Linked DNA regions of Homo sapiens. The protein of the gene in region 1 interacts with the protein of each later gene in a pairwise test. Each region holds a gene or a part of one and is shown on either strand. Other genes may lie near its edges.

What was found. Proteins that work in one complex are often made in the same cells at the same time.
Region 2: the proteins of LRIF1 (region 1) and TSEN15 interact in binary tests that used the Homo sapiens proteins (3 or more experiments, as listed by UniProt).

The regions. Positions count from the first base shown.
Region 1 is NC_000001.11:110,957,263-110,960,922, forward strand, and holds part of LRIF1 (ligand-dependent nuclear receptor-interacting factor 1), read right to left. Parts: intron 1-3,660. UniProt on the Homo sapiens protein: Together with SMCHD1, involved in chromosome X inactivation in females by promoting the compaction of heterochromatin.
Region 2 is NC_000001.11:184,058,175-184,061,834, reverse strand, and holds part of TSEN15 (tRNA-splicing endonuclease subunit Sen15), read right to left. Parts: exon of another isoform or gene 3,595-3,660; intron 1-3,594. UniProt on the Homo sapiens protein: Non-catalytic subunit of the tRNA-splicing endonuclease complex, a complex responsible for identification and cleavage of the splice sites in pre-tRNA. It cleaves pre-tRNA at the 5' and 3' splice sites to release the intron.

The DNA.
Region 1 (3,660 bases):
CTGGCTAACACAGTGAAACCCCATCTCTACTAAAAATACAAAAAAAAAAAAAAAAAAAAAATTAGCCGGGCGTGGTAGCAAGCGCCTGTAGTCCCAGCTACTCAGGAGGCTGAGGTAGGACAATGGAGTGAGGAGGCGGCGGAGCTTGCAGTGAGCTGAGATCGCGCCACTGCACTCCAGCCTGGGCGACAAAGCAAGACTCAGTCTCAAAAAAAAAAAAAAAAAAAAAAGACTGCAACAATTCTCACGGCTTCAACTATTTTCAACTATCTTCTTTGGAATAATGACTCCCATAGTTATATCCTTTTATTCCTGTCCCCTACTGGAATTGACATCAGTTCCATATTTGTGATGTCTTACCAAACATTTTAATCCCATCACTTTAAATCTACGAAGTTAAAATTACTCTCTATTGAAAAGTAGTAGTCTATCCTACCATTCAATCATATGGCAGCGCCAATATTTTCCACATCATATAGGTTTCAAATCACCTAGTCATTGCTGATTTGTCTTTATCATCATTCTTATTTACTTTAAATTCATCCACAGAACCTTGCATATGTCCTTACAAAAGGCAAACATTTAATAAATGCATACTGAATCATCAAGTCTATACGGTTTTCTTTTTAACCCATTTCATCCATCTTTTCTTTCTTCATCATTGTGACTTCCACCATCTACATGAGATCCTCATCAGATGTGTCTAGCACTCATCATTCTCATCCCTACAGTATTTTGCTGATGTTGTTTTTCTGATTGCAGCCACTATTGACTATTATGTATCTCTGGCAGACTAAAATTGTTTTCATCCTGTTATCTCTTGTTCAAAGTTTTAGTATTCATCATTGCCAATTCAGCTGGACGCGAAAATCATCTACAATCTAGCTCCAACCAATCTCTACAACAATACCACCCACAACTTCTCAATGTGAAATCTCTGCTCTTACCAGAGAGATCTCTTTGCTATTCTGGAATATGCCATGTATATTACATTATTTACTCAAAGTATTATTATTTTTCTTCTCCAACAATATAAAATTAGTTTCCAATTCTATCTTTTCCATAAAATATCTGCCAGTCACTCCAGCTTAATTTCTTCCAACTTGGAATCCCGAATGTACTCCCATTGGTGCTATTAATGTTGGAAATTATATAATGCTTTCTTTATTGACTTTAATCTATTAGCTAATTTTTTAAAATGAGTATTGTTTCATTCAATAAGACTGAAACTCCTTAAGGTGAGAGGCTTTATAATTTATTTTGCAAATATCCTTCCAATACCAAGCATAGTATTTTATATGATGTCTATATTTCTGCTTTATAAAAAAAACTATACTGTGTGAGCTATTTTCCAATCTGATCACTAAATTTTTCCCTCTCTTTTCCTCTATTTCACCTCCAAAAAATAAAAAAAAGGAAGAAAAATTAAGCTTCTTCCATGTCAGTGTATCAGTGAGAGTCACATAATCTACCACAGACCATAAATTCCTGCAGGGTAGATTATCCTATTCATATCTATATACTCCGCATCTAATTCAGAAACTGGAAATTGCACACAATAATGTTAGCTGAATTGAATCCTACAAGGTATAATTTTTTTAAAAATCCATGATTTCTTGGCAACAAAATGTAATGAGTTCTAAAAATTAATCTGCAGAATGCTAAGAAGTAATAACTCAGGATGAAATTCGTACTCCTTCTATCAATATACAGTTTTTCATATCTAGAAGGAGCCTTCCATTGAAGAGATTAAATAATTAAAGTCCTACAAAGATTCTGTTTTCTGAAAGATCATATTCTGCGGGCTAATGTCAGAACTAAAACTAGAACCAGATTCTGCATCCCATTTTCTAGTCTGGTCACCTAATTACTTTAAAGTAATTACTTTAAACCAGCTGGTGTTCAAACTGAGAAACTACATTTGAAAAATAATACAGTTTAACAGTTTAAAAGAGAAAAGAGGAACATATTAGAAAGATTACAGGCTACTAATTCTGGTTCTTATAATTACAAGTTGACTAGAAAATGTACTTATCCTCTTTGAATCTGTTTCTTCATTTGTTAAATAGGGGAAAATAAAGCTTACTAGGAGAAGTAAATGAAATAACTGCCTGGGAGCATAACAGTTATCATCTTCCATTAAAATATGCAATTGGTCTCTGAGAATAAGGTAAGATAAGGTCTTTTAAAAATGTAATGAGAAATATGGCCGGGTGCAGTGGCTCATGCTTGTAATCCCAGCACCTTGGGAGGCTGAGGTGGGCGGATCATGAGGTCAAGAGATCGAGACCATCCTGGCCAACATGGTGAAACCCCGTCTCTACTAAAAATACAAAAATTAGCCGGGCGTGGTGGCACACGCCTGTAGTCCCAGCTACTTGGGAGGCTGAGGCAGGAGAATCACTTGAACCCAGGAGGTCGAGGTTGCAGCGAGCCACTGCACTCCACCTGGCGACAGAGCGAGACTCCATCTCAAAAAAAAAAAAAAAAAAAAAAGAATGAGAAATTTAATAAAAAGGCACATTAAACATATTGGTAATGTTATATAACTTCTGACATTTTTTACTATTCTAATATTGATATGAGGCATTCATATATTAGAAATAGACTAATAAAAATGTTGAAGGCTGATGAACATTTTATAGATATTTTTGCAAAATATATTTTTTTCAACTGCTAGGAAATCCTTTTCTTACTATCTATGACATAACATTATATACATATAGAACATAATATATCTAAGTACATAACATAGTTATCTATCCAATAATATGTACCATGTATTGCGTACATGATAGATATACCAGTTGTTACTAACTCTAATCCTAATAAACAGTCAAGAAAGTTATGAACTGCCATTCCCATTTTATACTTGAGAAAATGGAGATTTGGAAACATTTAATAACTTACTTAGAATTACACACTCCCCTTGAGAAAGCTTATCTACTTTCTATATTTACTTTAGCATAACCCCATTATAACAGGGTCCAAAAAATTCAAATGTATAAACTAAGAGATTAATGACAGATTTCATTTAGACTCTATAGTATGTGTGTCTGTCTCTCCCTCACACACACACAGACACACTCAAATCACAAAATAAAACACTGTACACAACAAAATGCATACTGAACTGACAATGAAGCATCATCATTCCAGTCAAACCAAACCCCCTGCTGAGAACACTTAAGTTTAGCTCCCCATTTGAATACAAATGGTTATGGGAAGATAGCTGCCAATGGCCAATCACATGATGTCTTAATTCTTATTATTGTAGGATATATAATCACAGGCTTTCATTATAGTACCTCTAAGGTGATGCTTCCCAAATCTCTAGTCTCAGCTCTGACTCAGCCTGAGTTTCATATTCAAATATCTGACTGCTTTCTTGATGTGTTCCTCATCTCAGTTAATTTACCAATATCCACCCAGAAAACTGGCATCATAATTGATCCCCCTTTCTTCCTGCCAATTCATTAACGAAGTCGGTCTATTTTCCCTTCTATATTTCTTTGAATCCAACCCCTACTGTACTGTACCAGCTAGTTCAGGCCCTCAGAATTTCTGAAAAGACAACTGAAATAGGATCCTTATATGTAGATCACTCACCCTCAAATCCAGACTGCCAACGTTATCTAAAATGTACACCTGTGTCAGTCT
Region 2 (3,660 bases), about 73 Mb from region 1:
AAGTATGTAAACAAAACCACCAGGTCTAAAGCCTGGGAAAGTAAGTGGGAAGCAGACACTAAAAACTGTTCAGGCATTCTTAGAATAGCACACAGATATAACATTAAACACTCCTTAGAACAATTACTTTTTAAGGAGGCAGAAAATACATATACACCATAAAATAAATAATAAACCATATAAATATACATGCCACTCTGCCACATAACAGTCAAGTGGTGACTGAAACAGTGGGACTATTTGTCATCACTAGGGAAATACTTTATAACTAAGTTGTAGTTAACTATGTAAATGACAGAGTTTGGTTCAGTTTTACAAACAACAGATTATAAAATTTGTCTCCTTCAATAAAAGAGACAGTTATCAGGCCTTATGTGCTATATGCTCTTTGTAAATAATAAGAAATTGTAGCTCCAGCAAACTGCCAACTCCTCTGGCTCTACAGCTGTGTATGCTACCCAACTCTCCTACTAATAAAAATGTTATTTAAGGTTTTTTGAGGACTACAAAGCATTTTTTAAAGCACTATATTCAAGCAGCTAAGACGCACAGTCTAAAATGGTGATTTACAACTGGTATGCTGAGGTTGGTTGTATAGTATGTGGCAAGTAATTTGTTTCTAACAATAGAGTAGTAAAGTTGGCAGGGTATTTTTAAATATAAAACTAATATTCCTGATAATATTATCAGTCTCACCAGTGATATTCCAACATTCTTTCTTGAGTGAGAGTCAAAAGACAAATTAGCACTAAGAGGTCCTGGGAACAATATATGGGCCAAAGCCCATTATTACTATAAAAGAAAGAATAATGGCTATTTTGGGGGGGAAGAAAGATTATGATTGGGATGGGGCACATTGAAAAGTTTGTGGGGTGCCTAGAAAAGTTCTATTTCTTGACTTAGTTATAATTACAAGAGTTCTAGACGTTTGCCTTATAACTCATTAATTTATACATTGGTATTGTGTGGTTTTCCGTATCTAGTTTCATTTACAATAAAATCTTTTTAAAAACCAATAAAGCAAGAGAAACTCTAATAGCTGTGAGGCTAACTGAGACCGTGGTACAGCTCACTTAATCTTTTATTATCTTTTGGAAAAAGTGGGGGTACAAATGAAAATATACTTTTAACCTCAGCTTTTTGTATGTAAAGTTAGGATAAAACAAACACCCCGTATACCACTAGGGATTTTGGTGCTGATTTAATGAAAGTCTACTTGTAAAAATATTTTGAAATACTTTGAAATTCTGTAACATTCTCTGCAAATGCAAAGTATTCTTAAAACCACATAGAATAAACAATAGTCTCACTTCCTTGCTTAAAGCCCTTCAATGACACCACCCATTTAGCAGTAATTTTCATAGTGTTCTTTGTGGAAACCTAAGACTCCACAGACATGCTTCAGGGGCAGGGCATCATGTACAGATATGCAGATTGTGCTTTGCACAACGGTGCCTGGCACAAGTGGATCTAAAATCTGGCCTTCATTGTTCGCCAAGCCTTGAACCTTAGTGAAGAGACATTTTCCTTTGCATGTCGAGAGGGAGCTCCTTTTCCTAAACTGTTCAGAGACTCTCTAAGTGCTAGCTGTAGTTCTGTTCAAAAGTTCCCCATTAAACAGTACCTTATTTCTGTCAAAAAATAAAAACAAACTGTCTGCAAGTCTTCTTCAAAGTTAAGACAACACAAACACATTTTATATTTGTAATTCCTTCATTTACAAACATATTTGAGCATTTGAGTTCCTCTTCTGTGAGTTGCCTGTTCATATTCTTTGCCCATGTTTCCCATTGGGATTTTTTTTCTGAAATCACAGAAGCTAATTCTAAATTAACCTGTCAGTTATGCACATGTTATAAATCTTCTCCCAGTCTGTGAAAACTTACACATTGCAAGTGCAAGTGTAAACTGGTAATAATCCTTTTGAAAACAATTTAGCAATAACCAGTAGAGATGAAGGGATAGGCCAGGCCTAGTGGCTCACACCTGTAATGCCAGAATTTTGGGAGGCCAAGGCGGGCAGATAACTTGAGGTCAGGAGTTCGAGACCAGCCTAGCCAATAAGGCAAAAACCTGTCTCTACTAAAACACAAAAAATTAGTTGGGCATGGTAGTGCATGCCTGTAATCCCAGCTACTTAGAACGCTGAAGCAGGAGAATCACTTGAACCCGGGAGGCGGAGACTGCAGTGTGCCGAGATTGTGCCACTGCACTCCAGCCTGAGTGACAGAGCCAGAATCCATCTCAAAAAAAAAGAAGGTATAAAGGTATACATGTCCCAGCTATTCTTAGGAAAACTCTCATACATGAGTACAAGGAGGTACTCACAAGGCTATTCATTAGAATACCATTAGTAATAGCAAAAAAGTAAAAACAATGATGGCCTTCATAATCTAAATAAACTTTCCCATCTAATTTTCCATCCTTTCCCTCTTTTCTCTGAAATTTTATTCATTCATTCATTCATTCATTTGCTGCCTTAAGGAATATTACTAGACACCTACTCTGACTAGACACCATGCTAGGTAGGCAATCATGCTTAATTACTTGCAGTTACCCTACTAAACCATGGTCTCTTACTGGCTAAAGAGACTTTTCCTGTCCTTCCTCTGGGTTTTGACATAATTTTGTACATATCCCTGTTAAACTACTTATCAGTACTCCATAATACTTGTTATTCAATTATCTAGCTACAAAATAAGTGAAGGCAGTCCCAAATCACACATTCAATTAAATATCTGAACAAAGGGCAATTCTGTTTTTTAAAATTCCATCCAACAATTACCAAAAAAAAAAAAAAAAGTATTTTCTAAGCGAATATTCAGTGCTAGAATACTACTTTCATGAGGATGTCATGAAAGTATTTGTTATCATGGTATCCCCAGCACCTAGATCATTGCCTGACACATAAGAGTCACTCAATAAATAATTGTTAAGACCAAAAAGCCCAAGCAATATTATCTGACAAATAATAATATTTAAAAGTGAAAACAGAATCGTTAATTTATGTAGATGTTTTATCACTGAATAAGTAAAAGCTGTTTTCCCTCTTAAATAAAAAGTATTTTTTCTTTCATGGTGAGTTGCCCTCACATCTTCCCACCAAATACTTTTAGGACATGTCCCAATGAATTTCTTTGCTATACAAGGTTATCAGAGACTCAACATCAATCATTTTCTTCTCTGTGTTACTAACACAGAAAAATTCCCACATTAACTATGAAAGGCTGGAATTGCAGCATTACTGTTAGATATATAACATTTTATATTATAAAATACACTAAAAGTAAAAATAGATAAAAGTATGCCTACTACCTAAAAGACTGCCCTGTTAAAGACTGAATAATGAAATCACACATACACACATATACACCCACACATTTCCATTTGTTAAAAAGTTATTTGCATAGTTTGAGTTGAGAAAATGTTATGCACTAAAAGGCATATAAATCTAGTATGTATCAGGCCTCATTTGTGCTACATTCTATATTAGTATTCTACTGTATAATATAGTTAAGAATATTTATATAAAAACAAGACATAAAGATTTAAGCTCTCTCAGTTATTAAATGCAACAGCATCAAAATGGCTTACCAAGTTATCATTCCAACTAATTCTACTTGAAGAAGAAAACAAGCTTTAGCCATTCAAGCTAGAAAA